2 linked regions of the Homo sapiens genome follow. The protein of the gene in region 1 purifies or fractionates together with the protein of each later gene. This does not show direct contact. Each region holds a gene or a part of one and is shown on either strand. Other genes may lie near its edges. The genes, in order: PLEKHA3 and SEC24D.

Region 1 (3,821 bases):
ACTTGTTAATTAACAGTTTATAGCATATCTACAATTGTCCTAAAAAGCAACATTGTCAAACTATGTTTTACTCAACACCACACCACAGTCCTGTAAGATGGTATTAAAAAATACATAAAATGGGCCAGGCGCAGTGTCTCACGCCTGTAATCCCAACACTTTGGAAGACTAAGGCGGGCAGATCACGAGGTCAGGAGATCGAGACCATCCTGGCTAACATGGTGAAACCCCGTCTCTACTAAAAATACAAAAAATTAGCTGGGCATGGTGGCAGGCGCCTGTGGTCCCATCTGCTCAGGAGGCTGAGGCAGGAGAATGGCATGAACCCAGGAGGCGGAGCTTGCAGTGAGCTGAGATTGCGCCACTGCACTCCAGCCTGGGCGACAGAGCAAGACTCCATTTCAAAAAAAGAAAATATATACATATATAGTATTTATATATATATTTATTTTATTTGTGTATATATATAACGGGCTCAATTGTCAAATAAATTTCAGCAACACTGTACACTACACTTCCACCTCTCAGAGATTCATAATACACTTCAGCATAAAAGAGGGTGTGACGGCTGGGCATGGTGGCTTATGCCTGTAATCCCAACACTTTGGGAGGCTGAAGCAGGAGGACTGCTTGAAGCTAGGAGTTTGAGACCAGCCTGGGCAACAAAATGAGACTCCATCTCTACAAAAAATAAATTTAAAAACTTAGCTTGAAGCCAGGAGTTTGAGACCAGCTTGGGCAACAAAATGAGACCCCCCCCATCTCTACAAATAATAAATTAAAAAACATAGCCAGGCACCGTGGTGTGCACCTGTAGTCCCAGCTACTCAGGAGGCTGGAACTTGGGAGTTTGAGGCTGCAGTGAGTTATGATGGTGTCACTGCACTCCAGCCTGGGTAACAGAGTGAGACCCTGTCTCTAAAAAAATAAATAAATAAATAAGTAAAAAGGCTGTGACAAGTCCCATCAAACCCAATTCATATCATTTAAGTTAACCTAGCAATTCCCAAATTAATCTGGCCATAAAACTCATTTTCATGGTACGCTTGCCTCAGAGGAAACTATTAGCCCATCAAATACTGATTAGAAAACAATTCTCTAAATAAATCTAGGCAATAATCTTTACTAAATCTCATAACTAAATTTGCTGGGATAGGTAAGAGAACCTAGGAAGAAGTTAGACCCTATTCTCCTAACAAATAGATCTTCAGGTAATTGCTGAAACAGCAACAAGGTGGCATTCTTACTCCTATAAATGGACTCCTAAAAACACTTTGATGCAATAAACTTGAAGTCTCATTAAAGCTTATCTCACCTACAAATTTCTAACAGCATGCTAGAGCAAATTTATTAGCTCAGAAAGGACAACGAATCTGCCACCCCTGGCAAAAAGAGGACTTGTTCTGAGCAATAAGGAAGTAAGAAACTAACACTGAGCACCTAACAGTAAGCAGGTCAGATCGTTTGCAGTGACTCTCTGATATACACTGTATTTTTACACATGAAGAAACTGAAGATCAGCTACTCTGAGGGTTCAGATCCAAATGCTTAGTAGAGAATACCGTTCCCACCGGAATATGTTTCAAATTCCTTCTAACTCCTTTAAAGATATACGTAATTGTACCCCATTGTGACTAAAATCTCATTCCATTGTGTAATTCTTACCAAGCAGAATAGAGCTCCCCAACTTTTTCTTTGTCACAGCACTTTGTAATATTTTCCTAGACACTGGGGAAAATGGATGAAGCAGCCTGTGGGCAGGCCATGCACAGCCCCTCCAAGGAGAAGGGAATGAGGACACTAGCACAAGTGCTCAGCTCATCAGCTAAGAAGCTCGAATATGAAACAGTACAAACAAAAAAATTCAACTTGTTAGCTGTTCCCCGCCCCCCAACTGCCTGCTTCCACCCTTAAAAATAAATACCAAAATGAAACGAAAACCACATGCAACATTACTACTGAGGGAAAAAACCAAAACAAGAAGTTCAAACCATTTGAACAGGAGAAGGTGACACAGGAGAAACTAAGGGATCCGGATGGTGCAGTTGAAACATCTCAGGTTTAAACTTGGCATTGGCTATCTTCACACATTCCTCAAGCGTTGTGATGAATGTGTTACACGTGGCACTAAGCAGAGAAGAGGCTTCATTCATGTTCTGAAAAATTACACAAAGACTTGAACAGATTTGCATACAACTACATGGAATCATATACAACCTTATCATTAAATAATAAGACATCTCCAACAGACACATTACTATGTTATGTTCAAATTTATTTAAAATACAGTACCTTAGAAAATTAAGCTGGGGCAAAAAAAGAAAAAAGAAAACATTAAAACATCTATGTATAAGAAATGCCTGTCTCCTAAACAATGTATGAAACTAGATTCTAAGAAAAAATAAGCTTTGCATTTAATTATCATATTGAAAAACTGTGTACAAAAGTTTATCTTAGAGAAATCTAACCTAAACAGTAATTTTCACTTTCCCAAAAGTGGACACAGACATGGAATACCCTTAGAGTTAATTAGTGGCAGTACAATTCATGCCTACCCTCTATCCATTCTCCCACTTCTTCCTTGATAGAGTAAAAAGCCCAATTTTGTTCAGGATCGCAAAGTGCCCTGATCCTGGGGGATGAATAGAGACTGATCTAACCTAGTCATGGCTATTCCAACACTCTTTACTAAATGCTCATTTTTTCCTAGTTTCCTTTGAGCCGGAAAAAAAAAAAAAAAAAAAAGATGAGAAGTTGGCTAGGGAATTTCTGGGATTTTTGTTTCCCGATTCAAAACCAAGCACAGCAAGTTGAGAAGGACTCTCTCTACCCTGGCAACCCCACTGCCTCCTGCCTCTTTGTGAGCTTGACAGTCATCTTGACACCTGGGGCATTAGGAGAAAAACTCAACACACCAAGAATGGCAGAGTGGAAGGATGGAACAAGCCTGGGTCCCTAATACTGTCACTGAGCTGCTGTAGCAAGTGTGAGGTCAACTACCTCCAGGGAGCTTGTGGTCAGTTTGTCCTTGGGCTTCTTACACAAGATTCCTCCCCAACAGGAGAAGGCCACAGAAGAAATAGGAAGATTTCTTGCCCCACTTCTACCAAGTTAGGCAAAAAGGGACAGGCAACATGCTGGCCTTTCACCCAGAGAGTGGTATAGCTCACTGGTCCTATTTTACCATGAAGAATGAGCCTATTATAGCCCGATCCTACTAATCTGAGTTTTGATTCCTAAGTCACTGTTCTGAGAAGGATTTGTTTTAAGTTATTTCATAAAGATAAGTTATCAACTCTCATAGTTGAAGCAGGGACCTTATTACCAAAAAAAGAGAATAGCAGCTGTCCAGTGAATTTATGCCGCTAGCCTGGAGAACAAAGCCTGGAATGCTTCTTCCCCACTCCAACCTCCAAATTATCAGACTGGCTGCAAAGACAAGCCTTGACCCCTGGAGAAATATGCTACTTCATGTTCTTCTCTGGCCACACAGACACAATCGAGAAGATGCTACAGATTTCCAGATAGTATACAGTAGGCAGAACCCAGAAAAGCTGAAAATAACTCAATGTGAAAATGCCTGTCATCTTATGGAATGACTGAGGATCCCCCCAGAGTACTCCAAAGCATAACCACACGTGAAGAGATCCTCTTCGCTCTACCTCTGCACTAGGAGATGAATGATTCTCATCATGGTGAACAAATTCCTGTATTGTATGAACTTGCTGCATTAAGAGGTCACAGTAGAGGCGAAGTTCAGACATTTTGGTTTTCAGCGATTCACTGGTTTCACTTATTTCTGAAAAGAATATACATAAATA
Region 2 (3,821 bases), on another chromosome or scaffold:
GTTAGGGGCCAGGCGCGGTGGCTCATGCCTATAATCCCAGCACTTTGAGAGGCCGAGGCGGGTGGATTACCTGAGGTCGGGAGTTTGAGACCAGCCTGACCAACACAGAGAAACCCCGTCTCTACTAAAAATACAAAATTAGCCGGGTGTGGTGGCGCATGCCTGTAATCTCAGCTACTCAGGAGGCTGAGGCAGGAAAATCGCTTGAACCTGGGAGGCGGAGGTTGCAGTGAGCCGAGATCGTGCCATTGCACTCCAGCCTGGGTAATAAGAGCGAAACTCCGTCTCAAAAAAAAAAAAGTGTTAGTATACAGCACTAGCTTTACAAAAACACAATGAATAAGCATAAATGGAGATACGATAATGTGAGCAACACAAAGCAAGAGTTAGCACTGGCCAGATCTACAGTGGAATAGATACTTCAAAGAACCACAATAAGTTTGCTTGTGTCTGTCAGGAGACCAATAAAAGCGTCACTAAAAGGCTAGACAAGAAGACACAGGAAGACTGAAGATTAAGGTATCTAAGGTTATTCAGCAGAATATAATCAGAGATATAAGAGCTGGAGTAATTTAGTGAAAGTCTTAAATAATTAAACCAAAACACCACAATATGCATAGAAAGATATATTTGCAGAGAGTATAATAGCCTGGTTATTCACCTGATATTTAATAGCCATTAAGTAAGGAGAAAGCAGTTTAAACTAAAGCATGAAGGATTTAATCCAACAAAGACAGCTTTTAAAAACACTGGTAAGGCCAGGTGCCGAGGCTAACGCCTATAATCTCAGCACTTTGCGAGGCCAAGGCGAGAGGATCACTTGAGCTGAGGAGTTCAAGACCAGCCTGGGAAACATAGGGAGATCCCATCTCTACCAGCTACTTGGAAGCTAGGCAACAGAGCAAAACCCTGTCTCAAATAAATTAATTAATTTAATTTAATTAAATATTGGTAAATACCAGAGTGTTTTGCTAATGAGTGCTACAGTTTGTCATCCACTTCATTGAATAAACATTTATAATTAGCTCAATTTAACCATTCCACAGTGTATACATATTTCAAAACAATATGTTGTACATTATATATATATGTATATATAATTTTTTATTTGCCAATTAAAATTTTTTTTTTTAAAAACAGCCATGAGTGCCTTCTCTGCTCCAGGAACATCTACTATAGGAACATCTATTATAACACAGTATGGCAAATAGTATAGAGGCCTGAAAAAGTATTAGAATACAAAAGAATTCAAATTAGATTTGCATGGTATAAAAAAATCCCTCTGGCTCAGGAGTTGATGGTTTGGAAAAAGACAGTATTGGAGAGAGGGATAATAGTTACAAGATCATTTTAGTAATCCATGTGAGAGATGGATGGATTGAACAAAAAGAGTGACAGGAGAATGGAAAGGAGAAAGCAGGTAGGAAAGCTGTTTACAATCACTCCAAAAAGATTTGGGAGACCGATTACATTGGAGGAGATAAAAAGGAGGGAGAGGTTTTTTTGCTTGTTTGTTTGAGAGAGTCTCACTCTGTTCCCCAGGCTGGAGTGCAGTGGCGTGATCTTGGCTCACTGCAACCTCCATCTCCCTGGTTCAAGCGATTCTCATGCCTTAGCCTCCCAAATAGCTGAGATTACAAGCATGTGCCACCATGCCCAGCTAATTTTTATCTTCTATTTTTTTAGTAGAGACCGGGATTCACCATGTTGGCCAGGCTGGTCTCAAACTCCGGGCCTCAAGTGATCCACTTGTCTTGGTCTCCCAAAGTGTTAGGATTACAGGTGTGAGCCACCACACCCCACCAAGTTTTGTTTTTTTGTTTTTTTAATAAAGTTTCTGGTATGGATCACGAAATAAATGATGCTAATGAGTGAGATTTGAAATGCCAGAAAACATAGGCTTCCATGATGAATATGGAATTGTTTTGGGCATGGTGACTGTGACGTGCCTCAACAAAGGTGGGCAACTGGAAATATGGGTCTAGAGCAAGCTTTTCCAACCCACGGCCCACACGCAGCCCAGGACAGCTTTGAATATGGCCCAACACAAATTTGAAAACTTTTTTAATCCATTATGAGATTTTTTTGATTTTTTTTTTTTTTAGCTCATCAGCTATTGTTAGTGTATTTTATGTGTGGCCCATGACAATTCTTCTCCCAGTGTGGCCCAGGAAAGCCAAAAGACTGGATACCCCTGGTCTAGAGCTTAGGGGAGGCATCTGGGCTGGAGAAATAGATCTGAGAGACAAGCACTTTCTGTGAATGATCCAGCTTAGGGAAAAATCTACAGAGTGGGATAACAGTAGTGAAGATGGAACATGGAGGGAGAAACAGCAACACTTAAGAGTCATGTAGAAGAATTCCTTCAAAAGAAATGTCCAGAAAGCAACCCAAAAAAATGGGCACAATGGCTCACACCTATAATTCCAGCACCTTGGGAGGTGGAGGCGGGTGGATCACGTGAGGTCAGGAGTTCGAGACCAACCTGGCCAACATTGTGAAACCCCGTCTCTACTAAAAATACAAAAATTACCCAGGCATGGTGGCGGGCGCCTGTAATCCCAGCTACTCAGGAGGCTGAGGCAGGAGAATCACTAGAACCCAGGAGGCTGAGGCAGGAGAATCACTAGAACCCAGGAGGCGGAGGTTGCAGTGAGCTGAGATCGCAAAACTGCACCCCAACCTGGTCGACAGAGGGAGACTCCACCTCAAAAGACAACAACAAAAGGATAGTGTCATTGAAACCAAAGGAGAAAAGAGTTTTGTAAAAATGAGAGTGGTAAACAGAGTCAAATACAAAAGAGGACAGACAGCACAATGTCTACTGCATTGAGAAATAGGACACTGATAGTCCTGGTGAGGGAAGTGAAAGTGTGGATGGGGTGGCAAACTATGGAGTGTAAACTATGCTGAGCCATGGAGGGAAGGAGAGGTAAAGGTGGAGATTACCAAGCATAGTGAGTACTTTCTCAAGAAGATGCCTGTGAAGAGGGAAGGGTGAATAATATAGAGTGTTATACTTAGGTGTGTATGCAATTTGTTTTTTGCCTTCTTGAGAGATCTGGGTATGAATCCTGGTGCTACTACTTGCTGTCTGTGACCTTAGACAAGTCACATGACACCAGACATTCAGTTTTCCTAGCTGCAAAAATAACTTACTGCATAGCATTGTATGAGGATTAAATAAGACAATACAGGAAAAGCTTTTAGGGCCAGATTTCGACACATCATAAAAAGGAATAATTTATAATTATCATTATAAATAAATGCTGAGGAGAAATGAACCACCAGTTAGAAACTGAAGGGGTTAATGGTTTCTACAGGATCCAGTAAGGCAAGATTACAAACATTCTGGAGAGGATGGTCCTGAACAAGAAGAGGGATGCTTCATCTGGACATCTTTAAAATCTCGGGAAGAATAAATCATAAGACTGACTTTCCACAGGAAATTCACAATCTCAGAGCATCTTCTGCAGCACACTGTGTGTGGCTGCTAACATCAAGCCTCACTAAAGGGAGTCCTCACCCCTTGCTGATTCTGCACTATATACATTCTACCTAGCACAGCCTGGATCCCAGATATCTAAGCTAGTTCCAGTGAGCCCTGAGAGTTACTCATTGATTTATACATGGTCCATTTGTACAAAGAATTGTACAAAGAATTATCCTCACATGATGTACAGATTTATCTAGGGCCAATCCTAGATAAGGATATGTGAATTTAATTCATTTATAAATTTAATTCTTTTTTTATTCAATGTTTACAATAGCCTTACACCACTAATTAACAGCAAGAACAAGACTCACAGTAAAAATAAAAC

Evidence for each region.
Region 2: the proteins of PLEKHA3 (region 1) and SEC24D purify together in Homo sapiens (affinity purification with mass spectrometry; one large-scale study listed by BioGRID and IntAct). This does not show direct contact.

The regions. Positions count from the first base shown.
Region 1 is NC_000002.12:178,493,831-178,497,651, reverse strand, and holds part of PLEKHA3 (pleckstrin homology domain-containing family A member 3), read right to left. Parts: intron 3,800-3,821; coding exon 3,663-3,799; intron 2,157-3,662; coding exon 1,992-2,156; intron 1-1,991. UniProt on the Homo sapiens protein: Plays a role in regulation of vesicular cargo transport from the trans-Golgi network (TGN) to the plasma membrane.
Region 2 is NC_000004.12:118,829,525-118,833,345, forward strand, and holds part of SEC24D (protein transport protein Sec24D), read right to left. Parts: intron 1-3,821. UniProt on the Homo sapiens protein: Component of the coat protein complex II (COPII) which promotes the formation of transport vesicles from the endoplasmic reticulum (ER).